2 separate regions of the Homo sapiens genome follow, and region 1 is linked to region 2. The links come from fine-mapping of genetic effects on gene expression. A gene starts in region 2. The other region holds a variant in brackets. All regions are shown on one strand. Distances are between the middles of the regions. Region 1 has its middle 50 kb from the start of GPR12. Region 2 holds the start of GPR12 (G protein-coupled receptor 12).

Evidence for each region.
Region 1: its variant is fine-mapped to the expression of GPR12 in neural progenitor cells (Aygun 2021, PIP 0.95).

Annotation. Positions count from the first base shown.
Region 1 is chr13:26,802,455-26,818,425 of GRCh38, forward strand. No RefSeq gene overlaps it. Among named protein-coding and RNA genes, the nearest start is that of GPR12, 50 kb to the left of the region's middle. The variant G/GTGTC (reference allele first, on the strand shown) is at 9,340.
Region 2 is chr13:26,757,331-26,773,301 of GRCh38, forward strand. It overlaps GPR12 (G protein-coupled receptor 12), which reads right to left and starts at 3,456. Exons shown (of 2, transcript NM_005288.4): 1 at 3,249-3,456; 2 at 1-2,512. The coding sequence starts at 2,497. The coding sequence ends at 1,493.

The sequences.
Region 1 (15,971 bases), 45 kb after region 2:
GATTGACTTATCAAAACTCTACTATCAGCCACATCTAATACATGCTTGAGAGGTTGTAGCAAATAAAAATTTGTGTATCTCATTACATTTAGTACAGCCCCATTGAGTCTGGCTGCCTGGCTAGCCCACCCTGGAATATAGCTCTGGGGGCATTTCTACCCTATCAGTGCTTTCTGTTTTATAACCAGTGCTTTCTGGTTTATTTTCTATGCATTTAATCCTGCTTACAGATTTCCCAATCCATAGCCTTTTACTCAGTTTTTGGTTGAGGACCAAACTTACTACTTTTAAGGGCAGTGCATTCTTAAAGTCATCTCTTTATTCTTTGTTCTCAGCTCATTTATCAGGTAAGTATAAAAGAGTTTACTCAAAGTTCCAATTAGTGAAGCCATTGAATATTTGATTTTATACGAGTATACTAATTTGATACCTTTTTCTGCATCTCCTGAACCAGTAGATTCCGAAAACATGTCTGTAAAATGAACAGCAGCTCTTATATCTCTCAATGCTCATCCCCCCTGGTGGCTCCCGATACCCACGTGATAGAAGTCAGAATTCTCTAGCTTCATATTCAAGCCATTCATGATCAGACTTCACCTTCTTTTTCATCATTCTGTTCAAGAGTTACTCCCATGCACTTGATACCCTACCTACACTGAAAATGATGAGCACACCAGGAGCTGTGGCTTTTTCAGGATCACAAGAAAAACCTCTAGAGACAGATACCCAATTATCTGGTAGAATCCCAAGTGACTGTGTGGACTTTCTGATACCTGTGGGAAAACACAATGTGATGGGATATCTCCAGCCCAGCTCATACAGCTAAACACTGATGAGTGCAGCAGGCACCAAACCCAATGCACAGTTCAAAATCGTCCACAGTCTCCTTGTTGTTCAGCCGCCCCCTCTATAACCACAGCAGCCTAGGTCTGATAATAAACTGAGAGGACCCTCCACAAGAAAGTGAAGGCATTACACGTCGATATTTGTTCCTAGGTTCTTGTGTAGTTGTCTCATTCTTCTCCCCTCGGCTTCTTGATCTGTGGTCCTTGGAAGCCACATCTGAATAAGGGCATGGAAACTTCCATATCATCTGACCATGACGGAGTTACAGGATTCCCTCTAGCCTTAAACAACTAGAAAACTGGGCAATGTGTATGACAAAAGAGCTTTCATTCATTCATTGGGAAGTAAATGAGGCAAACTCTACAATTCCCTCAGTTTACTGCATGGAGAGAGTTTCCAGGCTGAAGCTCAGGGACAGGGAGTCTAGATAGGGCTGGTGGTTTGGCTGAGTGGAGGAGAAAGAATTCAGAGTTCAGGGAGGTCAGAGTGGTTGGAATTTCCAGGGTAAAATACTGGGGAGGAGGGAGCTTCACAGAGAGAAAGAGAGAGCTCCAGAGATCTGCAGAGGGGTCCCCTTGAGATTACGGATGAGAACAAATCTGTGTGTGCGTAAAAGGAAACTCCCTGAGGCCAGGAAAAGAGCAACCAGAAAGGAGCAGGCAGAACAGTCCCTGGAGATCACACAGGGCTGGGAATGATTTGTGCTGCCACCCACTAGGGTGGAAAGACCTCATAACACAAGCAGTATTGAGCAGAGGTTTCAGAGGTGGTAGCCTCAGTAATGGGACCACATTAGCCCTAGATCTGCCTCAAATAAAAGCAAGCCTTGGAAGGATTAAATTGCTGCTCAGAACAAAACCTAACAATATACAAAGGAATACAATAGAATCCAGCAACCAAAAGCATAAAATTTACACTGCTCAGCATCCAGTTAAAAATTACCAGGAATGTAAAGAAGCAGGCAATATAACCTATCACTAGGAGAAAAAAATTAATAATCTAAGTAGATTTTTTTTTTGAGATGGAGTTTCACTCTTGTTGCCCAGGCTGGAGTGCAATGGTGCAATCTCGGCTTACTGCAACTTCAGCCTCCTGGGTTCAAGTGATTCTCCTGCCTCAGCCTCCTGAGTAGCTGGGATTACAGGCACAAGCCACCATGCCAAGCTAATTTTGTGTTTTTAGTGGAGACCAGTTTTCTCCATGTTGGTCAGGCTGGTCTCAAATTCCTGACCTCAGGTGATCCACCCACCTCGGCCTCCCAAAGTGCTGGGATTACAGGTGTGAGCCACTGCACCTGGCCTAAATAGATTTTTAAAAAGATACAAATGGTAGAAGTAGCACACAGGGATGTTAAAGCAGCTATTATGAACATACTCCTTATCTTCAAGAAGATAAAGGAAAGCATAAACATGATGAACAACATGGAACATAAAAGCCCCCAATCTAATTCTGAGGGATAAAAAATATTATATCTTAAATGAAAAATTCAGTTGATGAGAATAACAGCAGATTAAACATTGCAAAAGAAAAGACCAATGAACTAACTTGAAGATACAACAGTAGAAACATTTAAAAGGAAACAGAAATGGAAAAGATTGTAAAAAATTGAGAAAAGCACCAATGAGCTGTGAGCTAATATCAAACAAGCAATCTAACAGATGTATAATTAGAGCTCTGATGGGGGAAAAAGCAGAGCAAGGGAGACAGAAAAATATATTTGAAGAAATGGCCAAAAAAAGTCCAAATTTGATGAAAACTATAAACCCATAGATACAAAAATCTCAACACACCCCAAGCACAAAAAATATCTTACAAATTACACCAAAGCACATCATAGTCAAATTGCTCAAAACAAATGATAGAGTGAAAATCTTTAAAGCAGCAGAAAAAAGACATTAACACAAAGGGAAATAAGGACTGCAAATTTCTCATAAGAAACTATGCAAATCAGAAGACCATTCCATCACATTATTAAAATACTGAAAGAGAAAGCTATTAATATAAAATCTATAGTCAAAAAAAAAACTTCAAAAAATGAAGGCAAAATAAAGACTTTTTCAGACAACTAGAAATTGAGAGAATTAATTACCAGAAGACTAGCATTATGAGGAATGTTAAAGGAAGTTTTTGGTGTTTTTTTTGGGGGGGGGTAGAAGAGAAATGCTGCTGGATGGGAATTGGATGTTGCACAAAAGAATGTTGAGCAGTGAAAATGACAAAAATGTGGGTATGTGGAAAATACATTTTCCCTTCACTTTTTCAAATATCTTTTTATTTTATTTTTTTTAATTTAAATTTATTTCTTAAATTTATTTCTATTAAATTTTCTTGTAACCATGTACAACTAAGTTGTTCTACTTTAATTTTTTTTTTTTTTTTTTTTTTTTTTTATTGATCATTCTTGGGTGTTTCTCGCAGAGGGGGATTTGGCAGAGTCATAGGACAATAGTGGAGGGAAGGTCAGCAGATAAACAAGTGAACAAAGGTCTCTGGTTTTCCTAGGCAGAGGACCCTGCGGCCTTCTGCAGCGTTTGTGTCCCTAGGTACTTGAGATTAGGGAGTGGTGATGACTCTTAACCAGCATGCTGCCTTCAAGCATCTGTTTAACAAAGCACATCTTGCACCGCCCTTAATCCATTTAACCCTGAGTGGACACAGCACATGTTTCAGAGAGCACAGGGTTGGGGGTAAGGTCATAGATCAGCAGGATCCCAAGGCAGAAGAATTTTTCTTAGTACAGAACAAAATGAAAAGTCTCCCATGTCTACTTCTTTCTACACAAACAGCAACCATCCGATTTCTCAATCTTTTCCCCACCTTTCCCCCTTTTCTATTCCACTAAACCGCCATTGTCATCATGGCCCGTTCTCAATGAGCTGTTGCGTACACCTCCCAGACGGGGTGGTGGCCGGACAGAGGGGCTCCACACTTCCCAGAAGGGGCAGCCGGGCAGAGGCGCCCCGCACCTCCCGGATGGGGCGGCTGGCCAGGCGGAGGCGCCCCCCACCTCCCTCCCGGACGGGGCGGCTGGCCAGGCGGGGGCTGACCCCCACCTCCCTCCCGGACGGGGTGGCTGGCCGGGCGGGGGCTGACCCCCCACCTCCCTCCCGGACATCAAATATCTTTTTAATTGATTAAAAAATAGTTGACTGTTTCAAGCAAAGTAATAATTAGTCATGTATTTAGGGATATATAGCATATGTAGAATTAAAGTGTATGTCAATCATAGCACAAAGGCCAGGAGAGGGATATGGAAGCATACTGTTAAAAAGTTCTTCAACTATACAAAAAATGGTATAACATTATTTGAAGGTAGACTGTGATAAATGGAAGATATTTATTGCAAATCCTAGAGCAACCACTGAAACAAAACAAACAGTTCTAGCTAATAAACCGAGATGAATTGATTAGGATACAGACATGCTCAGGGTCATTAATTAATACCCAACATTCTTATATCAAAATGAAGCAGACACAAAATTACTGCAAATATGGGGAAGCTAGAAAGGATCCATGTACCTGTCTAACTGCCTAGTCATGACATACTCCTACAAGTGCATTCCTAAGGTGCATATCAAGGCATTCTAAGAGAAAAGGTAATGTAGGATACCACTGGTACTACCAAACTTAGATAAAGATATATATGTTGTTAGAGAGGGCAAACCAAAAATAAAACTTGAAGCCCCCCACCCTGCCACAGTCATTTGAATGGACTTTCTCTTCTAGGCAAGTGCCCTCCAAGTTTAATCTGAAAGACTGGTTTGGGCCATGACAAGGAGGGAGGTGTTGGACATGCCTCATCATGCCCTCCTCCCTTTTGGAATTCAGGAAAAGTCAACCAGCATTAACATCAACACAGACCTTAAGTCTGATATGAAACATGTACAATCTATTCTCTCTGGAGTCTTCATCTGCATGGTAAAGCTTTGGTTTCTACAACCTCTTATTGTTACCTAGACTTTTCTTTCTATAGATAATAACTCTTTCAACCAACTGCCAATCAATCAGAAAATTTTTAAATCTACCTATAATCTGGAAGCCCACCCACCCTGCCCCTTGAGTTGTCCCACCTGTCTGGACTGAACCGATGTATATCTTAAATATATTTGATTAATGTCTCATGTTTCCCTAAAATATATAAAACAAAGCTGTGCCCCAACCACCTTGGGCACATGTTCTCAGGGCCTCCCAAGGACTGAGTCACTCATATTAGTGACAGGCTAGTGTCACTCACATTTGGCTCAGAATACATCTCTTCAAATATTTTTCAGAGTTTGACTCTTTTCGTTGACAACAGTGATATCAACTTTCACAAGACACTACCAAGGAAACAAAGAGGGAGAGAAATTCAGGTCAAATCAGTGAGACAGGTTTATGATATGGACTCCGCTTTTCCCCTTCAACTGAGAACTCAGTCTCAGTCAACCCCATTCCATTTTGAGTATCCTGTTTTTAAAACCCTCACTACACGGACTACCAATAGTTACTCAAACACACATGCTCCTCTTTCACATATTCTTTTTTTTTTTTTTTAGACAGAGTCTTGCTCTTCACCCAGATTGTGTAGTGGTTCAATCTTGGCTCACTGCAATCTCCGCTTCCCAGGTTCAAGCGATTCTCCTGCCTCAGCCTCCTGAGCAGCTGGGACTACAGGCGTGTGCCACCACGACTAGCTAATTTTTGTGTTTTTAGTAGAGATGAGGTTTCACCATGTTGGCCAGTCTGGTCTCGAACTCCTGACCATAGGTGATCTGCCCACTTCAGTCTCCCAAAGTGCTGGGATTACTGGTGTGAGTCACTGCACTCAGACTGTTTCACATATTCTTGCCTTTCCTCTGCCTACAATACCCTTCCCTATCTTGTTTCCCTGGCAAAGTCCCAGTCATCTTCCAAATCGATTAATATGTCATCTCTTCTGTGATGCATTCCCTGCCTTTCCCTGGTGATTTCTACTGGGTCCCCATAGCACCTGGAGTACAGCTCTAGTTTGACATTTATCACAGAGAATTGTGTTTTCCCTTTTTATTTTCCCCTAGAACAGTAGTTCTAAAACTCCAGCATGCATTAGAATCACCTGGAGTGTTTATTCAAACACAAATTCCTGCCATCTCCTTTCCACCCTCAGAGTTTCTGATTCAGTAGGTCTGAGGTAAGGACCAAGAATTTGCATTTCTAACAAGTTTTCAAGGGATGCTGATGCATCCAGGGACTACATTCCAAGAAACATTAATCAAAACAGTGAATTCTTAAAAACATGAAAAATGTTGTAAGAGATATAGGAAAAAAACAAACCAAAGTGTTCTTCCTACTCTCAACACAACACTGCTGACCCCAGATGTATGGGGCACTTCCCCATGCAGCACGCGGTCAATTTGTCCATGCACAGCAGCTGGGCATCCTTTAATTCAATCCATTTCAATTCAATTCAATTCTAACACTATCTACTAGGATACAGCGTTGGATTCCACAGGTTGAGGGCTCAGTCCCACAAGACTCCCCACTTCAGATGTCACTTGCAAGCCCCAGGTTGTGTTCTGTGCTTCTGACAGAGTGACTATAAATTGCAGGTTTGCATGACCTCCTCCTTAGGTGCGATTAATTTGCTACAGTAGTTCACAGAACTCAGGGAAATACTTCACCTACATGTACTGGTTTATTACGAAACATATTAGAAAGGATACAGATGAACAGCCAGATGAAAGAGACATATGGGGCAAGGCATGTGGGAAAGACGCAGAGATTTCCTTTTCCTCTCTGGGTGTGTCACCTCCACGTTCAGATATTCAGAAGCTCCTGGAACCCTGTCCTTTTGGGCTTTTATGGAGGCTCATTATGTAGGCATGATTGACTATATCATTGCCCATTGGTGATCAACTCAACCTTCAGTCCCTCTTCCTTCCCAGAGGTTGGGGTAAACTTAAAGTCCCAACCCTCTAATAACATGGTTGGTTCCCCTGGCAACTGATCCCATCCTGAGGCCATCCAGGAGCCCCCAGCCAAAGGTCAATCATTAGAATACAGATACGTATCCCTTTGGAGATTCCAGAGGTTCCAGGAGCCAAGTAGAGATGAAGACCATATTTATATAAACACACACACACACACACACAAACACACACACACAATAAATATATAAATATACAGGATACAAATATATAAATATACAAATATATAAAATAAATCACAACATCACAGATGTAATGTTCATGTTTGTATCCCTCACACCTAGGATGGTGCTAGCACAGAGTAGATGCTTAATATACATTTCTGTAGAGTGAATGGATAAATGCATGAATTAAAGCATAAATGTGATACATTATGTGATATAATGATATAAAATAATATAGCCTACTAGCACCCCTAGCAGAAATCACTGCAGCTTTTTTACCAATGCCATACTGCAGTAGAAGAGTATATGTGTAAAAAGCCATCAAATAAATATTTAGCTATTTGCCATTTATACATTTGTCACCTAATAAGAAATAAAACTCTGCAGAGCAGCAAATAATGGAAAAGGCATTTTAATCAGTCTTAGGAATTGCATATTGAGAGACACAGATCTAGCAAATAATTAATGGTCCTGTAAGGGCTGGTAAGGGAGCTAGAGTGAGTTTATACACTGGACGGTTTTAGCACAGTTCATGATTGATAATGGCTGATTAACAGTTTAGGATATCTTTAGTTGATCAATTTAGTTTCATGTAGTTTTCTCCCAAGGAGGTTGATGGTCAAGCCTAGTAGAAGCAGCTAAAGTCCAATGTGGCTGCTTTTATGATATCTGGCCCAGCCTAACAGGTCAGATTTCACCGGGTGTGTATGTAGCTATGTAACTGAGTACTCCCATTTTTTCTAAGAAAAAGAGAATGAGTTATTATTATTTTTTTAATTTTCTCTTCTCTTCTCTTTCCTTCTTTCCCACTGTTCCCGACTTCCTACTTGGCCCTTTAGAAATGCAAATATGACCTTTTACCTCCCCTTCACCAGACACTCCCTACAGGACAAGTTCACCTGATTATGTGCACCAAGGCAGAACTCTCCAGGAGAGTTAGCAGTTGATTTACAGAGCAAAGCACAGAATTCTCACCCACCAGGAGGTTGCCTTGGAACTCCCTCCTATTTGGGGAGTTTTTGGCCTAGTCCTGCCCACAAAGGTGCCAGCAGTCACCAGCTGAACTGCCCAGTAGATAAGACACCAGAGCTAACACAAAGACTCCCCACTTGATTGCTTCCTTTCCTGCCTTTTAAAAGTACCCGTTGTCAGCTCCAAAAGTGAAGCAATACACTTAAGGCAGGATGCCCGTATTTCTTCCCCTAAGCTAGCCTTGGAATAAATCACTTTTTTTATACCAGACCTTGCTCTTGAAAAGTGGACTCTGCAGGTGGCAAACAACTAACCTACAGTTTGGTTACAGCTGGGGTCAAACTCCCATGCCTCTCTGACTCCTTTTAGATACTTCTGACATAACCATCGGTAACTTGGTTTTTTTTTTTTCACACGTTGTTGTCCTACTTTCTTGCAAAATAGTTTTGAGACAGTTTTAAAAATTGAAACACACATAAAGAAGTACATTTAAAATTTTTTTAATGGAGTAAGAGTAAAAACAGTTCAGAAATTTATTACCCCAATATTCTACAGAAAATAAATTTCTGAACTGTTTAACCATTTAAAGACAAGTAACCATTTAAGATTTATTACTCCAATATTCTACAGATAAGTAGAGTATTGGGGTAATAAATATCTGAAGTCAAAGACAAAAAATAAGATCTGTTTCAGGACCTAAAGCAAAACAATGAATACTTGGAATAAAGAAGGTAAGCAAAGAAGACAGATAAGACATAAATGAAGAGGAAAGCCAAATGCAGCTTTAGTTCCATCTCAACTCCTCCTTGTCTTTAAACCAACTTTCCTATGTCAACACAAACTTCTTCAGTGCATCCAGAGAGAGGTATCCTCCATTCCTCTCCCTGGTCCAAGACCCCAGGCATCCTTCCCCCAGTCTGGTGGGAGTGCATTCCTTCCTCCTACCATGATTTTCTACTCTTCATTTCTACCTTTGCCCATAAGGGCAGCCTCTGAATGCCTGTGAGGAAGTGTGTGCTTTGAGCCCTTTACCCTTCTCATGTATCAACTGCAGAATGCTGGGAAAGCTGGAGGCAGTTCTCAGTGAATGTCTGCTGCACGGTGGAAGGACTGAGGAGACATTCTGTCAACATCAAATGGGGGTTCCCCTTGGGAGCAAAATTAGGAAGAATCCATACCAAAGGGACGGAACCAGACTTTTATAGAAATGTCACATCCCAAGAAATGGTTTTGGCAGCTGGTGTGTTGGGAGGTGTTTCAAAAAAGAAGGATTATCTCAAGTGATTTCAAGTGAATGGAGAAAGCCAGCCTAATTCTAATTGATGGCATGGTGCCATAGCTGAAGAAAGACTAGGAGCAGATGGTTGATGGGACCCTTCAATGGGGGTGGGTAGGAAGGCTAGAATAAGGCT[G/GTGTC]TGTCTCCAGTGCTGTCCGGAGGGTGGCACCTGACTCTCTGTTGGAAAGAATACCGTGGCCCCTCTTCCCAGGCTGCACACTCCAGTCCATCTGGCAGGCTTACTTCTCACAGTGAGTCACGAATTTGCCATTTTGGTTGCTGTATGGTGTTCTAGGGGCTGCCAAGTGGAGGTTGCCTTCACTCTCAAAAACTGACTTTGTTTCTCTTTGATTGCAAGTGGATGAACGTTGCAAGCCTCCAATAGATAAAGACAAGATGAAGAAAGGGATTTACCCCCCCCCCTTATATTGACCAAATACAGTGGCAATAATGTGCAGATATTACCCCACTCCTCCTGCTCGATGCCTGGTACTTCATCTCTGAATGGTCCTGGGTCCCAAAGCAAGGGTTGTTCAGGGGGACCATTCAGGGGACTGTCAAGGGGTGGCCTGAGACTTACAGCCAAGTCTTAGCAAGCATGAGCAGGTACCAAAGAAAGAAAGAAAGACATTCTGAGTCCTTTCCATTAATCTTCTAAGAGCAGAAACTATGAGCCCGTGGTGAGGTATTGCGGTGACTCTCTGACCTTCCAAAGGTTTTGTAAGAATGTAAATCCTTGTATTAAATCCTTATATCCTGGAAATAGCTAGGGTGGTATCTGTCTTCTGCAACTAAATCCTGATTGACTGACATACTACGAGAAGAAAAATACATAAAATGGAGGTGTCAGCTTCTTGGGCCCCGTGGAGGTGATTTCTCTAAGGATCTCCCTTCCAGTTCTTCTCAGCATGGTTGGTGGGAGGTGGCCCTAAGAGACTGAACAAAACCCAGTTCCTGATCTGAAGCTGAAACCAATCTTGTCCCGTGGTCAGTGAGGCCTTGGTAAGTTGTCTTCTTAGACAACATCTAACCACAAACACAAAGGTAGGGAGTTTATAATACGTCGTAGATCACATATTATACTAGGCAAGTGTTACTATTTTAATCTCCATTTACAGGTGAGGCTTTACCTGTAAAGCTGAGTGACTCATGCACAGGCCCAAAGTTTGATGATGGGGCCAAATGGACCCATTCCTGGGACCTGCTAATGGCCCATGGTGCTCATTGTCTACAGCAACTGTCAGTTTTTTGTTGTTGTTTATTTTATTTGTTTACTTATTTATTAGAGACAGAGCCTGACTGTGTTGTCCAGGCTAGATTGTAGTAGCATGATCCTGGCTCACGATGCCTTAAACTCCTGGGCTCAAGCAATCCTCCCACCTCAGCCTCCTAAGTAGCTGGGTTTACAGGTTCACACCATCATGCCTGGCTAAATATTATTTTAAAATTTTTTTGTAGAGATGGCAGTCTTGCTGTGTTGCCCAAGCTGATCTTGAACTCCTGACCTCAAGTGATCCTCCTGCCTCAGCCTTCCAAAGTACTGAGATTACAGGTGTGAGCCACCACGCCTGATCCAGTTTAGATTTTATTTCTAATGGTATTGTACTTCTTCATCTAGAAATGCTACCTATTTTCTCATCTATATTTGCAAGTTTGACAAATGTCAAAATTAGAAATAAGCCCACAAAAAAAGTATATTTTTGAGAGGAAAAAAGTCTAACTAATAATGGAAGAAACAGAACCGACTTAGTCAATTTTCAAAATTGGCTTTAAATACAGTATTAAGCTCCACAATTCCTTTTATAATAGTCATGTCTTGGGACTGGAAGGAAACCTGTTTACCATCTGTTATGCTTTCACACTCAGCATCTTATGAAATGTTACTTTCCAACAAAGAGCTGTCAGCAATTTCAGGTCAGGAAAAGTCATGGCTAATAAATGGTTTTTATTTCCAAAGAAACTGTAGAATTTTTGCTTATTGTATTATATTCATAAATAAAGGATATATTTTTTAAAGTAAATCAAGAAGGTATTTGAATTTGTGGATTTTCTTTCTTATAGAACACGTACAGGGCTTTGGCATTCTGTTAAGGAAAAGAACTACATTCTTCCGTCTCCTCCAGTAAGAGCAGGTTTCTTCTTGCACAAGAGCCAGCTCTGCCTCCTGCTTGGGCAAATCCAGGTTGCCAACGCCGGCTCAGCCGGCACACGTCCCTGTTGATTTATAGCATTCTGCAGGGAACTAGCCCTGTGTCAGTAAGGTTAAACATTTCGCGACATAATCAATTTTCTTGGTCAGTTTCTCTGCTTCGTCTGATTACAAACTCTTTCCTCTCTAAATTTCACTTTACCTAATAATCAGGTAGGAGATTTGACCATTCGTCACTCTCTCTCTCTCTCTGCAATAACTTTTATTCTGTAGTGTGTGATGCAGGCATTGGGCCCCAGAAAGCCCTGCTCCGTGTCATCTGTGATCTAATCCTTGTGGGGATGCTCGGGCCTCTGCCTGGCGAATTTCCTTGAAGCCACACTTCTAGAAAGTACAGGTGGTGTGCAAGTTCAGGGGGCGGTGGGGCAGGGCATTTAGACAGAGACCACCCCCATATTGTCTGTCAGATAAGCAGAGTTTAAGCTTTTTAAGCTTCTCTTATAAATAGCTATTCTTTTTCTTTTTTTCTTTTTTTTTTAAACGGAGTTTTGCTCTTGTCACCCAGGCTGGAGTGCAATGGCACGATCTCGACTCACTGCAACTTCTGCCTCCCAGGTTCAAGCGATTCTTGTGCCTCAGCCTCCCTAGTAGCTGGGATTACAGGTGCACACCACCACACCTGGCTAATTTTTGTATTTTTAGTATGCCAGGTGCAGTGGCTCATGCCTGTTATCCAAGCACTTTGGGAGGCTGAGGGGGATGGATCACTTGAGGTCAGGAGTTTGAGACCAGCCTGGCCATCATGGTGAAACACTGTCTCTGCTAAAAATAAGTAGCTATTCTTGGTTGAGGGCCTATTATGTTCTAGGCCCTGTTCATATATGATTTTGTTTTAGTTATTAGATCAAGCTTCCACAGGTAGATACTATCCTGCTTTTTACCGCAGAAAACTGCAGGGCATAGTGAGGTGAAGTCACCTGCCCAGGGTCATGCGAGTCTAGTTGATGCCAAAGTGCACGTCTTTTCACCTCCACACCCAGGCACCCTGCTGGCTGCTTCTCTCTGCTCCTGGGGCTCGTGAGGCCGGGGCCCTGCTCCCGTGGGAGTTTCCTTTCTCCCTGTCTCACTGCCCCCTAAAATTCCAACCCAAAGAGAAGATCCAGCTGGGATTCTCGCCTTCCCTCGGTCTTCTCCTGCCCTCCAATTGCTCTCTATGTACACGCCCATCTTCTCAGCCCCATTTGAAGCTTCCTGAGGGCAGAGACCCTTTGTGTCCAAGAACTCTGGGCATATGCTGGGTGGTTGGTGGTCAGGCCCGTGGGCACCCACCTGCTTGTGATTTCATTCGTTGTAACTGATTTCAGCACAGCTGCACACCTCTCAGGTGAATTGCAATCTTTACTTACATTCTTATCCTTGTATTCTCCAAGCTGCTTTGGCTGCTTCCTGGGGTTTTGTGTTCTCTTCCTGGAGATGATGTGGAGGTGTTGTGGTGAAGGGTCAGATGCATCCTTTCCTCTGTCCACTTGCTGGGCAGGGCACACGGGGTTCCTTCAGCACCATCCAAGTGGAACCCTGCAGATGGGGGTGTCCGGAGCACTCACAGAATGAAAGTCAGCATTGAGTCTGGCTCTGGTGCTTTCTTATCTAACTAATAATTCTCCACTTTCAAAAAACAATCTGCTAACAAGTCAGGTACATCTTTACCAGCTACTCCTCTTTCTTAGCCTCCTAATAATGCCCATCAGAAGATGACCACTAGGTCATGGCCTTTGGTCTTTCATCAAGAATTCATGAGCACTGGTTCGTGTCTTGCACTCCCACTGGGAGCAAGGTCTTGAGGCTTTCTCAGAGAGGGCACTGCAGGGCTGCAGGGGCACAGATTTACAACTGTGGTTGTTGATTAAACAACAATAACAGCAGCACAGAGCTGGAAGAGAATGAGACACTCTATTTTCTGAATGCTTGCAGCATGTCTGTCTTTCTTGGCTGCAGCATTCGTCATCACAGGCCTAGGGAAGAGCACGTCAATCCTGGTGAACTTATCGTGCAGCAAAGTGTCCCAGGAGAAAGGGTCTTCCTGCATCTCCTCTCAGCTCCTGCCTGTCGAGGGCTGTGCAGTCTAATCGGGGTCAGAAAAGGAAGGGAAGGTGTGGATGCCAGGTGGATCCATAAACACAGTCACAAGCTGTAGGCTTCTACTGGGGTCAGTCATTTTTCTCTGAGTTTAATAATGGATCCCCATTATTAAAGCCAGTGGACTCCAAGTGGTGGAGCACAGGAAGGGGGGTCCCTAGATGCTCCCTGAGGAGCCACACCCCAACCCCCTGCTCACCCTAAGTTACCTCTGAGGGGAATGGTCACTCGGGTATCAAACACAGAAGTAGCAACTGGACAACAGCTCTGTTATATTTCTGTCAGTGGGACAACAGCTCTGTTATATTTCTATGTCAGTGCTGCTGGGACAGGACACCATCTGGGTGTGGCAGCCTGGCCAGGTGAGCTGATCACTCAGAGTAGCCAGAGGCAGAAGGGCTGGGACGAAAGTGAGGGTGGCCAGCAAGATGGGCGCGAAGTGCAAGGCCCGGTCAGCAAGCTGTGCTAGCTGGCTGGGGCTGCCGCAACAAAATGCCACAAATGGAGCAGCTGAAACAACAGAAATGTCCTGTCTCACTGTTCTGGCAGCCAAGTCCACGATCAAGGTGTCCACAGGGTTATGCAACCTCTGAGGGCACTGGCGAAGGACCTGTTCCAGGCTTCTCTCCTGGCTTTCAGGAATTCCTTGGTTTGTGGCAGCAGAACCCCAATCTTTATGCAGCGCTCTGTGTGTCTGTTCTTCACCTGGTGTTCTTTTCACAAGGACACAGTCATTCTGGATTGGGGACCACCCTATTCCAGTGTGACATCATCTTGACTAATTACATATAACGACCCTACTTTCAAATAAGGTCCCGTGCTGAGGCACTGGGGTTAGGACTTCATCACATGAAGTTGCAGTGGAGCACAATTCAACCCTTAACAAAGTCCATTTTTTGGGAGGCTAATTGGGGGATCGGTCAAAAGGTGGGAGACCCAATAGAAAATCGCAGGTCGGTGAGCGACATGGGTCAGGGTAAACGGTTCAGGAGAAAGGTGAACTAACTTTTCAGGGGGTCTTGGGGCTGCTTCTCCATGATGCTGGCTGCAGGGCACAGTGAGATTTTTTAAAGGCAGTGAAGGATCAAATGCAGTCTTGCTGTAGGCCTGGGCTGCTGCACTGGGTGATCGTGAAGAATTCCTTCAGTTCAGTGTCATCTGACACGCATTCCGGAGCCCGAGCCATGTGCCACAAGCTGGGTACACAGTGGTGGATAAAAACATCCATTGCTGCCCCCAAGGAGCTCACAGTTTTATGATTAAATGGCAACATTTTTATAGTGTCCAAAAACAGTTCCAGTATTTTTTTAACCACATTTTTCTTGAGCTAGACAGAAAGTTAAAATGCAGTGAAACAATCAACCACATGTTAAAATTGCAGAACAAAATTGGTGCCGTGTCAGCTTTCCGCTGGTTTCAAAACAAGCAGTAATGAGCTAATAGGAAAAAAAAATAGTGAGGGCTGGGGGGGTGACATAGAGACGGTTCATGGTATCTCTCTCAGCATATTGTTTTACATTTAAAGAAATGTCTTCATTATTAGGTCTGCTGATGCCACGTTGTAGCAATGTTTATGTCTTGCTTGAGAATCAAGACAGCACCTCTCTGCTCAAGGTTACCTAAATTTATAATCATTCACTGGCAGGCAATGATATAATATAGTCTCTTAATAATAGAGTTAAATGTAATACCTGGCCATGTGTTGGGAAAAGCATGGATTTTCAAGTTAGACACATCTGTCTCCTGTCTAACGTCACTCTGTAACTGTGTGAACTTATTCAGGAAGTTGAGCCTTCTGTTTCTAGTTGGTAAAATGGGAATGATAAAGATTTTCTACAATTATTGGGAGGATTCGACAAGAAAACACATTCAAGAGCCTAGCCCAATCCTGGAGCATAGCAAGCACTTTTAAAAAAAAGTGTCTTGGGCTTACACAAACAAATGCATCTGTTCCTGTCGTGACTTTGCAGATTGGGGAGGCAGGGCTGGGGCTCAGGGCAAGAAACTGCCAAAGAGGAGGCAAACTCAGGGAACCAGAGGCGTAAGAACCCTCCAGGTGAGCAGCTCAGTGCCAGGGAATATCAGAACCACAATCAGGGCAAGGCTGAGAAACCAGGGAGGCTGTGATGGGCAGATGTGTCTACTTCCCAAATACCTTTGAATCTAACCACTTCTCTCAACCCCACAACCATTGTCTGACATTAGGACATCTGGGCTCCTTTAAGGGCCACCTAATTTATCTCCCCACCTCCCCTAACTTTCCCCTATCCACTTCCCTTTCTGCAGCAAGAAAGATGCTTAAAGATGCAATCCAATCTAGTCCTCCTGGGCTTAAAGACAGGATATCCAGCGCACCTGTCCTACACTAGTACAGGGGCTGGATTCCACCTGTTGATGTTAATGACGCTACATTGTTGACCTGCCAATTGAATAGAGAAGACATAGAAATGATTTTTAAAATATACTGTCAGCTGGGTGCAGTAGCT
Region 2 (15,971 bases):
GAATGGGCTCAATTAATGTGCTGCCAAGAATTTTTTCCACTGATTATATAGACATAACTATAAATCCATTGCAAATGGAGGGAAGGTACCTGCGTCTACATTTGTCTGCATGAACAGAAAAGAAACCTGAGACACATCGATTTTACAATGTGTTTAAAGTGAATTCTTCTTTGCAATTTCCTGACTACATTCTTGTTCTCTGAAAACAGGCAATGTGATTTTTATTGTGTATAAATTGGTTTTTGGTGAAAAGGAGTTAAAAGATTTCAAACTTAACTTTTCATCAACAGCCAATGGTCATTCTGTTTATGACCTTACAGGATATAGCTGGTATATGTCACAGTCATAGATGGACGCTGTGCACTGACAAACAAACCTAATCATTAAAATAGGGGACTGCCTGTTTCAAATGCATTATGCACCACAGACAGTATGAACCAGAAAAACTTGGCCTATAATATTTATTCTAATTATCTCAATCAAGAATAACCATTAGTATATTCTCAGAGAGAGAGGAAAGGTGATTTTTTTCATTTCATGATAATGTCACATTAGTTTTTTTCAGAATATATTAAAATAAATTTAATCTACTCTCAATTGCTAATATTTTTTCCTTTTGTTTTCTGAAAACAATCAGACAATAGCTTAAGAAACTACAATGGTGGATCTAATCAATCCTACTTCATATGAAGATCAAAACCTACTTCAGGATTCATTTTAGAAAGTACATATTGGAAAACTATATTGAAAAATGACCCGTTGGAATCTAGATTGACATGGCAACATTTGAAACAAGTGGTCTAGCTAACACAGTCGACCATGCAGAAGGAGTTGCAACATTTATAGAAATACCGAAGGAATTCTCGTGAACAGTAATTGCCGAAAGGAAAGAAAGAATGGATAAGAATGGGTTCACGGTTTCAGTGTCGGTGACATTACTGAGTTCATGTTAGCAAAATCAGGTCCCTTCCAAACACAATTATGTAAACTATTTGTATTGGATTGAAAGGGGTCATATTCTGTTACATACATGCAGCATTAAAAAATCTACCATCATGTAAAAAAAAAAAATAGTCTGGAAAAAGTAAGTCTTTCTCAATTTTCCTCAATCACTCAAATTTATTTTAAAGTCCAGGTAAAAACTCTGAAACTCATTTACTTCTAATAACATCATGGGCGTATCATATCCCTTCCTTTCCTACCCCCAGTCAGCCCTCCAAACAAAGTATAAAAGGAAACCCTTGCCCCCAAGCAAAACAAAATAATGTTGAGTGGAGAGCTCAACAATTTTTTTTAATGGTGAAAACACTGGTAACATTATTTTCACTTCAATCACTTAACTCATCTGAACGATGTCATTGTTTCACGAATGCTAAGTGCTCCTGTGGCTTGAGAGGGAATCCAATGCAAGGAATTCAAGGGAAGCATCTCAAACCTTGGCCAGGCAGTGGAAGTGCTTGGTAAATGCAGAGTCCTCCTGGGTGCAAGGGTGCTACACATCACTGGGCGAGCGCGCTCTCTGGGCGAGACTGGACGGGATGCAGCCGCAGCAAATGAGACAGAGCGCTTTCTGGATCTCTTGGTTTCTGAAAGCATATATGACAGGGTTGATGATGGAATTGTAGGTGGCGGGCAGGAGGGTGGCGTAGGTATAGATGGAGGGGTAGGTGTAATCCGCTATCAAGGAATAGAGGGTGAAAGGCATCCAGCAAGCAGCAAACGTCCCCAGGATGATAGCCAGGGTGGAGACCCCTTTCCGGGTGGTCACATAGTGCGACGTGGCCAGGAAGTGGTGCTGCAGGGCTATCTGATGGGCGTGCCTCATCACAATCTTACAGATCTGGATGTAGAGCTGAAGCATGAGCGCAAACATGAAGAGGAAGGACACCGAGAGGATGGCCGCGTTGTTCTTGGTGAGCGGTCTGACCACGCTGCAGGTGGACTCGTCTCGGAGGCAGTTCCAGCCCATGACGGGCAGCAGCCCCAGGCAGATGGAGGTCCCCCAGAGCATGACGAGCATGACATAGGTAAACGTGACCGTCCTCTCCGAATGGTACGTCAGAGCGTAGTACAGTGAGAGGTAGCGGTCAACAGTGATAGCCAGCAAGCTGCAGACAGAGGCAGAGAAAGAGGCGACAATGAGGCCGATCGTGACCAGCTTGGTGGCTTCTGACTGAAGCAGGTAGGCAAAAACAAAATTGGTGATGAGTCCAATGCCGGCCAGCAGGTCTGCAAGAGCCAGGCTGCCTATTAGCAGGAACATGGGTGCTCGCAGGCTGGGGTTGTGGAAGATGATAAGGACCACAATGGCATTTTCACAGGAGATGAGGGTTCCCGAGGTACACAAGACAATGTCCCAGGGGTTGACTACGAGCTCAGGCTCTGGCTCTACGGCAGGAACCCGGGAGGAGACAGCAGCCGAGATGTTCTCCGCAGCAGCGGCATCTAAATAATCCCGAGGCAGCCCGCTTAAATTGACCTTCAGGTCTTCATTCATTTTAACCCCTGTCCTCTTCAACGAAAAGACAGGCTTTTTAATGTTTAAATACAGCAGGGTGACAATCCAAGATCATGCAAAAAACACACAGACAAACAGAAAGCCAGCCCCTGCTCAGATACCAGTACCAAATGCCACAAGCTTCGGGAATGAGGAACTGTTGGGAAATGAAACAAAAGCCAAAGTCTCTGTGGTTTAAACCCCACAACAAAAATGCCGTTTGGCATTGGGGAAAACACAGGGTAGGACTTCAAAACACCAGCGTGAGCGAGGCAGGCACACACGGACTCGCGGCGGTCTGTTTGCAACAGCGCTGGGAATGCACATTGGAAAATCACATCTTGCATGCTGAAAACGAACAACTGTTTGACATCTGGGCTGCTGCCGAGAAAACCACGCGGCAGCGGCAGGTCTCGAGCCAGGGGCCGCCATCCTCGATGGAATATTTAAATCGCCTATTTCCATCGAACTCCCACCCTCCAAACGCATCCCCCGCGCGCGTGCACATCCTCAAACGCACCCCCGACCGGAACAAAGAGGGGCTCCAGACTCCCCCCGTGCGCACGGGGCAGTCGGGAGGGCCACGAGAGGGAGGTGTGTGCAATGGAAGTACCGAGACAGACAGACAGACAGATGCCCATGCACTGCTGCCGATTCCCTGGCGGCGGGGACGGGAGTCGGACGCGAGGGGGACAGACAGGGTGCGGGGACAGGCGGCCCGCGGGGGCGGGGGGGTCATCGAGGGGGTCACCTTGGCTCGCCCAGGCCGAGGGGGCTCCTCCGGTGCTTCCGAAGCGCGTGGGCTACTCGTGTCGCATGTCGGCGCAGTTGCCCGCTGTGGCAAGGGGGGGGCGGCCGGGCTCCGGAGCGGGCCGGGAGGGCGCGGGGCGCGCACTCCGCGGCAGGTGAGCGGCGCGGCTGCAGGTGAGCAGCAGCCTCGGCTCGCGCGCCCAGCTTTCCCCGCCGCGCCCGCCCGGCCCACACGCTCCCCGCGCGCGCGCCGCCCCCGCCCCGCGCGCGCCCGGCCGCCCGCCCGCCCGCGGGATCCCCGCGAGGCCGCGCGCCCCCACGGGTCAGGGCTGCTCTAGGGTGCGGGCAGGCGAGGGCGGCCCAGGGGCGCGGGGCGAGGGGCGAAGGAGCCAGGAGGCTGAGAACTGCATGGTAGCCCTGCCTGCCTGCCGCGCTGCGCGCCCCACCCCAGCCGGCGGCCCCGGGCTTGCACCGGGCGGGGCAGGGGAGCGCTGCCTGGAGCCCTGTGACCTATTTCGTTCCTGTGGTTTCCCTGGGGAGCTCCAAGTCTCTACAGTCCTGGCTTTTCCACGCCTTTACCTAAACCACTACATTCAGGGCCAAAAGAATTGCTTAGGATGATATTCACGATCAGCAGCAGGGATGCGGGGTGGACAGGTTAGGGAAGCAGATCTTTAAAACAACAAAATGCCCCGCACGCTCTTTTAGAATTGCCCATGGTCCTGGACCTGGTTCATTATCACTGTTCCCCAGGAACATTTGCTTGACTGGATAGATGCTGCTGCTCTGTGGATCATCATTATCATCACCAAATTGCACTTATTAAGCGCTCTTTGAGCTGTGTTTTCAAATGGAAATCATTTACTGAGTTCTTGTAGAAGCTTCCTGCAGACATTGGCCAAACCCCAATTCATTTAGATACTGAAGTGGCACTATTAATTTATTTTTTCATTTTGCCACATCAATGGATTCTAAGATGAAGAACCTGATAGCTGTCTGCTTTTATGATCCCATGCCTCCTCTGGATATAAAAACCAGAGCACCTCATAGATCTTAAGTTCCAAGATGATCCTCCAGTTTAAAGATGGGATAAGGAAAAAGTGTGATAGTCTTGTCTTGCCCTGTCAGAGGTGAAGGTTTTCCCACTGCTTTTCTTCCACTTGCCCAGGGGCTCTTGTATGAATGGAGATGGTCTGCAGGCAAGGGACCCTACAGGGGCATCATCAGCTGACCAGCCTGCCTTCCCCTGGTGCTCACGTCTTCTCTACCCCAGCCCAACAGATTCGGAGCCTCAATCACCCTTGACTTTCTTCCCGCTTCTCCTTCCCTTCTTCCATCAATCAGTTTCTGGCTCTGCAAGGTCACTCCAGCTCTCCCTGCATGCCACTTCTCATCATCCTCAGCTCCCTGGTTGAGGCCCTCATCCCCTCTCACCTGCATTTCTGGTACCCACCTGCCTCTCCCTTTCCCAACCTCCTCGATTTGGCACATCTATTCCATGATGTCCAAGACCTCCTGCTACCTCCAGAATAGTCTGAACTTTTTACCTTGACAGATTCTGCTCAGTAGTTCTTGGGGTGGGCCTACCTTCTGCATTTGCAAGCCTCTTCCCCAGTGATGCTGCTGCTGCTGCTGGTTGACAGATCACACTTTGAGAAGCAAGGTTCTATGGAGTTTTCAGAGTGGCTTGTTCATGGTGGGGAGGCATCAGACTCGTGTGTGTCCCAAGAACCGGGCTAAGGGCTGGGCATAGAAATTCAGTAAGACACGGTCTCCAGTCTGGTAGTGACACACACACAAATCAACAATAATGCCAGGCAGCAAATGCTGTCATGAAGGGATGTAATCTTCTTCTCAATTCTACATGATGCATCAAAGAATTTTAGAATGAAGCGATGAAAAATGAACAGTCACTTAACAAACATGTAGTAGTTTTGGCATAATATAGCTCAACCTACATGGCAAAATTTTGGGCACCTCACATTGGCATTGCAGTTTAGGGAAAGCGAATGCATAGGGCTAGCCAGACACTATTCTAGCCAATAACACTGACATGGTTTATGGCCCTGACTTCACGGAGCTTAAAGGGGTGGGACTTTTTAATTCAGTCGTTAATGTGTTTGAGAATTTTTTTTAAAAAAGAGCTGAGTGTTGGAGGAGAGAAAAAAGTATTGAGGTGAATGGCAGAGGTATACAGATTTTTGTAAAAAAAATTTGTAAAACCTGGGAGGAGTCAAAGGAGGAAACTGAGGCAAGTTACACCTGGGGCTTGGATACCGTCACTGGGGAGAGCCCAGGAGTTAGCTGCTAACACTGATGTGGACACTCAGCTCCCCTGTTGGTAACAGCAACTGTGTTCACAGTTCTGTCCCCACTCCCCCCGGAATGATTACTTGTAACTTCCCTGTACTCCGGATTCTATGTTCATTGGTTTATTTGTTAGGACTTTTGTTGCCAGGGAGCAGAAATCCAATTCAAACTAGTTTAAGAAAAAAAGGCGTTTTGTTGTCTGGCATGACTAGGAAAGATCTGGAGTGGTTCACATAAAAGAAGGAGAAGCTACAGGAAACAGGTGGCTGGCAGTCAGCCCTGCCCTGATTTATTTCTGCTTGTCTTTGCTTCTCTGTGTCTGTGTGCCTCAAACTTCTCTACCCCAGACAAGTTTCTTCCAGGCAGTCATGGAAAGTGGCCTCAGGCAGCCCTGGGCTTGCATTCTAAGACTGTATTCTTAACTTGTGAGTGGAATTCCCATGGAGAACTCTGCCCCAGCCTGGGCTGCGCCCCCTGCTCACAACCAACAATGGCAGCTAAAGGGAAAGAGTGGATCAGTTGGCCAGGCCTGGATCTCATGTGGTGTCTTGTGATGGGCATCCCTCTGAACTTCACCAAATGGGCATTTCTGAGAGGAACAGTGAGTTGGGACACCAGGCACACCAACTCCAGGTCTGGAGGTCGGGATTCACCACAGCTTGGAACTGGGTGAGCCAATGGGGACGTTTTGCACAGCCTCAGTAACGAGGGCCATAGAGTAGCTGTCTGCAAAGCTGTCTTCTCGATGTATTCACCGCCCATGACAGGACACTGCCGCAGATGCCCTCAGAAGTGTGACATTTATTGCCTTTTCATCACTTACCTTTTTTGTCACTTTTTAAAATAACTTCAGCAAGAAGTTGTAAACCTTCAAGCATGATCTGGCATTTTCACAACCTATAGTAACGATGACTGTTTTATGTGAGAAAGGCTCGGTGCCTGTCTTAATCACACATGGCATCTTTGCCAACTTAAACCCTGAGGGCACATTTATTAGCCCCTTCTTGTAACTGTATTTGTAAATCATGAGACTGTCACAGATTACTGGCTGGAGCAAGTCATAAACTGAGCCAGTACTGCACAGCACATGGTGTCTGTATTGAAATTTTACCAGTCAGCTTCTTTCTTGCTTATGTTAATGATTATTACCCAGTTTCCATAGATCTGATTAATTGGTGCAGTAATCTGAACCATAGATTGACCATGCTTTAGTCTGTCCAGCCAAGGGTCTATAACACACCTAAGAATACACTATAATCCCAAATTAAAGTTTGATTTTATTGATCTCTTCATCTGACAGTAAATTTTATAACTGTATAACCTACATATAGACAAGTGCATATTTCACAAGTATACAGTACCATGAAGATATATCAGATAGATATATCTATGTACCCACTATCCATCTTGAGAAATAGAACATTACCAGTACCCCAAAGCCTTCCTCTTGCCCACTCCCAATAATTATCCTCTGAAAAGAAACCACTATTCTGAATTCTAATATAACAGATTAGGTTTGTCTGTTTTTGAACTCTATATGAATGGAATCATACAGTATGTACACTTTCATGTCTGGCTTCTTTCACTCAACATTATGTTAATGAGACATATTCATTTGGTGCAAGGAGCAGTAGTTTAATCTTTTTCATTGCTGTATGGAATTCTATCGTAGGACTATTGTGTTAGTTCGTTCAGGCTGCTATAACAAAATACATCAGACTGGGTGATTTGTAAGCCAAAGAAATTTACTGCTCACAGTTCTGGAGACTGGGAAGTTCAAGATTATGGTGCCAGCAGATTCAGTGTCTGGTGAGGGCTCATTCCTTACAGATGGCACCTTCTTCCTGTGTCCTTACTGGCAGAAGGAGCAAACAAGCTCCTACGGGCACTCATCCTATTCAAGAGGGCAGAGCTCTCAAGACCTAATCACCTCCCCAAACCCCGGTTCTCAATGCTACTACACTGGGGATTAAGTTTCAACATAGAAATTTTGGGGGTAAACATTCAGACCACAACAAATATGCTGCCATTTTTCCATCTATTTCTTATCGATCCACATTGGGTTGTTTTCTGGTTTTGGCTATTGTGACTAAAACCATGACAAACTTTCTTGTACATGCCATGTGATAAACGCTGGCTCAAAAGCACATTTTAATAATTAGTTCTCCATTAAAATAATACCATGTTGCTATTTAAGGAGAGGGAGGAGACTATGAAAAATCACAACACATCCCTCCTTCCCCTTTTAAAATTCACTCTAAACTTCCATTTTAACAGAGGGCAAAGGTAGTTCATGGAAATATCAAAGAAAGAAAGAAAGACGGGAGGGACATACTACACAAAGATAATATTTAGTCTGCGGTTCTGTGTGCGAAAAGAGAGCTCCGTTGTCAACACTAACATTACTTCATTTCTACATATATTCTGGTGTTTTTTTTTTTAAGAAATATCTTTTTTCTGACTATAAACTAATAATACTTATTGCAGAAAATTTGGAGCCTACAAGTAAAATTAAAGTGTAATATGTCATGTACTCTTACAGAGAAAGCTGCTGTAAACTTTTTGTTAATATATATTTTAATAAATTTAGTTGGGATTTTTTTTGAGAGGAGGAGGCAGAGTAATGAGGTGTTACTTTCTGAAATGTTTTATTCACACAAGCGCATGGAGCAATAGTTTTTCATTTTCTTTGGATTTTGAGCTACCCGTCAGTCTGCTGTCTGTGCTTTATGGTGTGGACAGCAGACAGGGACCATTCTGCTCCCTCTCTGCTCCCTCTCTCTTCTCCTAGCATCTTCCCCCGCCCCCAACCCTTAACCCGACTCCTCCAACTCTCTCGATCCTTCTGGCAGGCTGGATAATGACCCCCAAAAATATCTAGGGCCTAAATCCAGGAACCTGGGACCGTTACTTTTGTTAAAATGGGCTTTGCAGAAGTGATTAGACGTCTTGAGGTAGGAGGACATTCTGGATCCGGGTGGGTCCTGAGTATAATCACCAAGGTCTTTCCAAGGCGGAGGCAGGAGGATTAGGGTCAGTAGTAAGAGATGTGAGGGCAGAAGCAGAGGGAGAAAGACAGAGATGTGAAGATGTTGCTCTGCCTGCTGTGAGGACAGAGCAGGGGCCGGGAGCCACAGGGTGTTGGCAGGCTCTGGAAACTGGGAAGATCAAGGGGATTCCTCCCTGGACTTCAAGAAGGAATGCTGGTCTGTGGGCCAACCTTAGACTTCTGACCCCCAGAACAAATGAGTGGGTTTTTAAAACTGATACATTATTATTAACTAAAATCCATAGTTTGCATAAGGGTTCACACCTGGTGTTGTCTATTCTATGGGTTTTGACAAATCTGCAGTGACGTGTATCCACCATCATAGTGACATACAGAATAGTTTCCCTGCCCTAAAATTCTCCGTGCTTGCCTATTCATCCCTCCCTCTCCCTAATCCCCGACTAAACTTTTTACCGTCTCCATAGATTTGCCCTTTCCAGAATGTCATAGAATTGGAATGATACAGTACGTAGTCTTTTCATATTGCCTTCTTGAACATAGCAATATGCATTTAAAGGTTTTCCATGTCTTTTCGCAGCTCGATAGCTCATGTATTTTTATTGCTGAGTAATATTCCAATGTCTGGATTTCTTTATCCATTCACCTACTGAAGGACATCTTGGTTGTTTCCAAGTTTGGCCAATTATGAATAAAGTGCTATCCACATCTGTGTGCAGGTTTTTGTGTGGATATAAGTTTTCAACTCATTTGGGTAAATACAAAAGTCCATTGTTGCTGAATAATTTGTGTTGTTTTAAGCCACACAGTTTGAGGTAATGTGTGAGGGCAGCAATGGGAAAGGAATGTAGGCCTTCGTCATGAGCCCAGGAGACCTGGGCTGCCCACAGGTCCTTGCAAACTTTAACCGCCTCACTCATGCCCAGCAGGGCCAGGCCTCTAGTTGCCAACAACAGGATATCCAGTATTTATTAATACTCACTGTGTGCCAGGCACTGTGTTAGGAGCCTTCCAAGTACATTCTAACTTAATCCTCCCAACAACCCTACAAGGTAGAGCACCTCTATTACCTTATGTATGACTGAGGGAGGTGACACACAGTGAGGTTCTATACCTGCCCTCAAAGCCAGGCAGTTAGGTGCCAGGATCTGCTTCCTGAGCCACTGGACTACACCACCTAGAGAGCAAGTGCCACTTATAGTAAGCTTTAAAATGGGCTTATGGAAATCCTACATCCATCCAATGTCTCTTCTCAGGTAAGAGGTTGAAGACCCAGCTTTGCATCTCTTTTAGAAAGACAGGAGCTTGTCCTACACAAGTCTACTCTAGGACTCCATTATCATTTCAATTTTGAAACCTGTTTATAATCTAATAGGACCTCAGTAAAACCTCAGGAATCTGCTTCTGGAGTTCTTTCCTGTTGATGTCATTGCAAATATTCTCAAAGGCCTTTTGCTGGCTGCTCTAGGCCTGGGCCCTACATCCAAAGGGGAGGATGACTGATCCCTGGCTGATTCCTTGCACCAACTTTGACTGACAGCTGTCATGGCAGATTCATCGAGGTCATGGGCAAAAGATGACAGCTGAAAGCCGGCTGGACCATTCAGGGATGCTCGGGTAAGGCTGGACACAGGCATTTGCAACAGCATGGGGAGAAGCTGTTGACTGTGCCTCTTGGTGGAATCCTGAGACCCTCTCTTAGCCTGAATATCAGACGCATCAGAGCACCAGGAGATGGGCACCAGTGCCCTGAAGGCCAAGGCCAGCAGGGAGGTGTTGACCAGCATTTCCAAAGGTGCAATGAGAAGAGAGGCTGAACTCATGGACTGGTTTCTGGGCATCTGGAGATAACTGTTTGGGGACTTCTTGAAAGCACTGGAAGACAGTTTAAAGGCATCTAATTTTTAACTATCAAGCCAGTGGAGTTTCTTTATCCTTTTGTCTCCTGAAGGATACCTTGGTTGTTTCCAAGTTTGGACAATTATGAATAATTGGCCAATATAGTAAAAGAAAACTTAGAAGCAAAGTAGCAAGGGCATCAGCAAAATACTTTGCTTCCCTGCTTCCAGCTACCCTCGGACTATTCTTCTATTTTCCCTTTTCAAGAAGACACATCAGCAGGAGGGCAACAGAATTTAAAAATCTCATCTGAAGGAAAGGCTGGAACTTTGCTCACCGTACACATTTCTTCCAAAAATAGTAGCCTGGGCCACTATTGTTTGGGAGTAAAAAGGGAGTGTTCACCTGGAGTTTCAATCAGGTTGTAAAAAGAAGAGATTGTTCTTGCCTGGCCTTGTAATAAAGACTATTAACCCTGATTTGGGCAGTGTCGCTCAGATCGGTAGTGCACTGCCAGCTCAGGGTTGGAATGCACTGTGGCCAGGGATGCTAGGAAGTTATCTTCTCAGGTCTTGACACCCTCGCTGTGTCTGGGCAAGAACTAGAGGAGAGGAGCCAGTGATCAGGTATGGTATTGATTTTGTGAATCACTAATGACTTGGGAGCACTGTTTGTGCAACCAAAATGCTTTATACTTGAGTTGAAGAGTTAAACGTCTGCAGGCCAGCTTGACAACACATGCTTTCTCTGCAAAGGAGCAATCCTGGGAGATCTATCACTTAATGCACTGTGAATCATGTGTTTGCAATCTCTCTCTTTTCTTGTGACCTACATTTAATGGTACCTGATGTACTATGCTGTGTGGTTTGAAGGAAATGTGTACTGTGAGCAAAGCCACAGCCTTTTCTTCTGATGGGATTTTTAGATTCTATTGCCCTCCTGCTGGATGTGCCTTCTTGAAAAGAGAAAATGGAAGGATAGTCCAAGGGTGGCTAGAAGCAGGGAAGTAGAGTATTTTGCTGATGTGCTACTTTGCTTCTAAATTTTCTTTTACTATATTAGGAGACTTAGGCGGCCAATTATAATCAATAAATTTTAACCAAAACATGATGGTTCAGCATGTCCACATTCTGTAGCTCTTGAAATACTGGCTTGAAATGTTGCTGAATGAAATGGGAGAGGAAGGAATGGCAAGGTCCCAGGGTGTGGGTGCAAGGCCCTGCCCTGGCTTGTGAAGGACGCACCTCCTCTTCACTTCTACTCAACTCCTTTAGCCACACACAGAGGTTGGGGACACTATATTTACGCCCAAAGTTCTGCAAGGTATGTACCCAGAGTGTGATAATGTGTGATGAGAAGAGCTCTACCATGGTCTTGCTCACAGTGAAGAATTGTTAGTTCTCTGTTCTGTCTCCAGATGTTGCCTACCCAGGCCAGGGTCATATGTGGCTAAGTGATTAGCACATATTTTGGTTGGTAATAAAGATGACCCATCTATCCCAACTTTTCATCATTCTACATTTGATTCTACATGCTACACTTGAGGCTTGCACATAACTGAGTTTACAATGATCATGTAAGACCAGTGGTACCTTGATGTTTGGATTTCATGCATTGGTAAATTTCACCAACAGCAGCAAGTACAAAAAGGAGAGACCAACATGGAGTTGCCAAATTTATATTTTGCTGAACACACTCACTTAAATGAGCACACTTCTAGCTACTTTCATTATCATTTCACAGTAAAGACCTTTTTAGCGCGCACACACACACACACACAGACATATCTCACACAAAAGGAGAGTGCTTACGTTAAACACAACTTGTTTTGTAAAAACTCACTGTATTGTTCTGATTATTCTCATTACCCCCATATGGGTGAAAACTGCCATGGCTCAGATTAGTCCGGGGAATGGCTCTTGAGAACCACTGATGGCTGTGATGATGCACCTTTTGTATCCACTCAAAGGGATCATAGAAAACAGTTAATACTTTTTGTCAAATCAATAGGGAAAATGCACAGGCAAAATTGCAGATTATAAGCAGTTGTTTTCTTATGAACTCATGAGCATTCCTCACCTCTCTGAATCGATAGCCAGTGTTTATGGAGCACCTAATGTGTGCTGAGCCCTGCGCAACAAACTCAACCCTTTATGGGAATTAGAAAATACTCATGCCGCCAAAAGCATGTTGGGATGTTGTTGCTGGGGGAAATGGCTGGCCAACTGCCTCCCAAGAAGCCTCAGGAGGCGACATTCATTTCTCTTGGTTTAGGCCCTCACCTTCAACATTACACACTCAAAGACGTCATTTATGTCAGCACATTATGAGTGGCTTATGTTTGAAGGGAAGATTCACATTAACCCAATTATTATATAATAAATATTTACTGTCTTGGGAGCCAGATATGAGCAGACCTATGTGGCCTTGAGCAAGTAAACAACTCGCTTCAGTTCTCTCATTTGTAAAATGAGAATATTAACAGCACTTACTGCCTAGGGCTAGTGCTGCATTATATGGGCTAAGGCACACAGTATACTCATCCCAGCCCGGCACAAAGCTAAGGCTCAGTAAACAATTGTGATGACTGTTCTTGTCACTATCTCTAGTGCATTATCTCCTGTCTCCCTGTGCAAGTGAAGACCCACGTGAATCCCTTTCTTTCTGCTGTACTGGCCAAGTACTTGGCATTCTCCTTGGAGTCACTGCTCACAAAACATCCAAGCTGTCAGGAAATCCTGTCAACTCTCCCCTCAAAATACATCCAGAATCCAAATTCGCCAAAACGTGGGAGCAACCAAGATGTCCTTCAGTAGGTGACTGGATAAACAAACTGTGGTCCATTCAGACAGTGGAATATTATTCAACACTAAAAAGAAATAAACTGTCAAGCCATGAAAAGACACAGAAGAAACTTAAATGCACATTGCTGAGTAAAATAAACCAATCTGAACAGGCTACATCCTGTACAGTTCCAACCCTAGGAACATTCTGGAAAAGGCAGTGGAGACAGTTACTCTAAGGTAAAGATCAGTGGTTGCCTGGGGTTAGGGTGGAGGGAGGGAAGAATAGGTGGAGCACAGAGGATTTCAGGGCAGTGAAACTATTCTGTATGGTATTACAATGGTAAGTCCATGTGATTATACACTAGTCCAAACCCACAGAATGTACAAAACCAAGAGTAAACCCTAATGTCAACTACGGACTTTGGGTGATGACGACGTGTCAACGTAAGTTCATCAGTTGTAAAAAACACACCACCCTATGAAGGATGTGGATAATGGGGGAGGCTATGTGTGTGGGTGGGGGTGGGGGGTGTGGGGGGGCGGTTATATGGGAACTCTCTGTACTTTCTGCTCAATTTTTCTATGAACCTAAAACTGCTCTAAAAAATAAAGTCAATTTTAAAAATAACTAGTAGAGGAACACTGTAGAAAATAAATTCCAATAATGAATCAACCACAAAGTGATCACATAAAAAATATTTAAAATGAAAAAAAAATAGCCCCACAATCCCACCTCATCCACTGCAACCATCTTGGTCCAAATGAGTGTCACTGCTCACCTGGGTAACCCCAAGAGCTCCCCTCCCCTGCTGGCTTCCTCCAGCTGCTTAATGCTCCTCAGTCAGATAATGTTTTCCCTTGGCCAAAACTCTCCAATGAGATCCTGTCTCCCTGAAAGTGAAGCTGAAATCCCCTGCCCTTCCTGGTCACCTGGGCCTCCTGCTCCTCCACCTCTACCCCTCCTGTCCCTTTTCCTCTCAGCACCCTGGTTGTTGCTCCACCCGGAAGGCTCTTCCCCTGCGTGTCTCACGACTGGCTCCTGCCTCCCCTGGGTCTTTCCTCAAACTTCCCACTTTCAGTGGGTCCTGCCTCAGCCACCTTGTCTAACTTGCATACCCCAACACACATGAGTCCTCTTTGCAGCTTTATTTTTCTCTTTAGCACTTATCACCATTGATGTATGCGCTATTTTATTTCTTTCTCGTGTTGTCTCCTCTCCACTTTTCCACCAGGATACAAGCTTGACAAAGGCTGGGATGTTTGTCTATTTGGTATGTGACTGTAACTCCAAGGCCCTAGAACACTGCCTGGCAGATAGAAGGGCCTTATTTTTGATGAATCGGTCAATGAAATTGGAATAGGGAGCTAGGAAAATCGACTGTTGAGAGGTTGGCCTAAGACAGCGGCAGCACGAGCCTGGTGGCAGGGCGGGCCCTTCCCGGGGCCTGGGAAGCTAAGCATCTGGTGGCCCTGAGAGCCTCTCCCCGGACCAGCTGGGAGGGCCTCTGCTGCGGCGTCCGCCATGCCTGGGAAAGTCATGTCAGAGTTGGACGTGCTAATCTACAGGGCCAGGTTTGAGGCAAGTCCTGCTTGCATCTTTTGTCTTTTTTAAGTGACTTGCCTTAGTGCCAGCAAAGGCACAGATCATGTTAAGAGCTAAATCGTGTCCCCCCTAAATTTATATGCTGAAATTCTAACCCCCAGTACTTCAGAATGGGACTGTACTTGGAGACAGGTTCTTTAAAGAGATGATTAAGTTAAAATGAGGCCATCAGGACTGGGCCTTAATCCAGTATGACTGGTGTCCTTGTAAGAGGAGATCAGGTCACAAACACACACAGGGAAGATGAAGTGAGCATGCAGGGAGAGAGAAGACAGTCACCCGCAAGTCAAAGAGAGTAAAGAGAGTGGCCTCAGAGGAAACCAACCCTGCTGACATCTTGATCCTGGACTTCCAGGCTTCAGAACTGTGAGATGATAACCCTCTGTTTTTTTAGGGCCCCCAGGCAGGGGTATTCTGTTGTGAGTGGGCAGACCACAGTTGTGGCAGGATGTCAAGTTCTTTTGGGAGGGCCTCAGATGGATCCCCAAATTGTGTTTCAAGGGGCTCTGCTGCTCCACAGTTTGACAGCACATGTGGGGAAAGTGTACCTGCTTGGCACCTATGCCTAGCATGTCCCTTCCCTCCCAGGGCATCGCGGCCAATTCCTAGCAGTCAGCCTCCTTTCCGAGGACTTTGCCCGAGGACTTTCTGGCCTAGAGCCTGCTTTGCCACCTGCACTGCAGGTTGGAAGTGCCAGGAAAGTTATACCCCTGGGAGCAGTGGAATTGGTGTATAAATACCCCAGCTTCCTCTCTCCTTTCTGTGTCTCAGTGATAGGGACTAACAAGTCGCCATCATCTTTTCAGAGTGAAGAAGCCACCGCAGGCTGGAGGACATGTCAATTGCTGTGATTGTGCTGCCCACGCAGTTACAGCCAAGCATCCTAGCACTTTGCATTTATAGCCTATTATTGTTTGAAGGTTTCAAACTCAAGGCTACAGTTTATTTCCTGGTGGTTTAACCAAGTCCCTGGTGCATGCTTTACTCTGAATCCTGGCAGGCTTCAGTCCCAGTTACCCACAGAGGGAATGTACTAGGCAGCTCAGGCCGCCATAACAAAACACCACAAACTGGGCGGCTTAAAGAACAGAAATTTATTTTCTCACAGTTCTGGAGGCTGGAAGTCCAGTGCTAAGGTCCTGGCAGGGTTCAGTTCACAGCGAGGACTCTTCTCCTGGC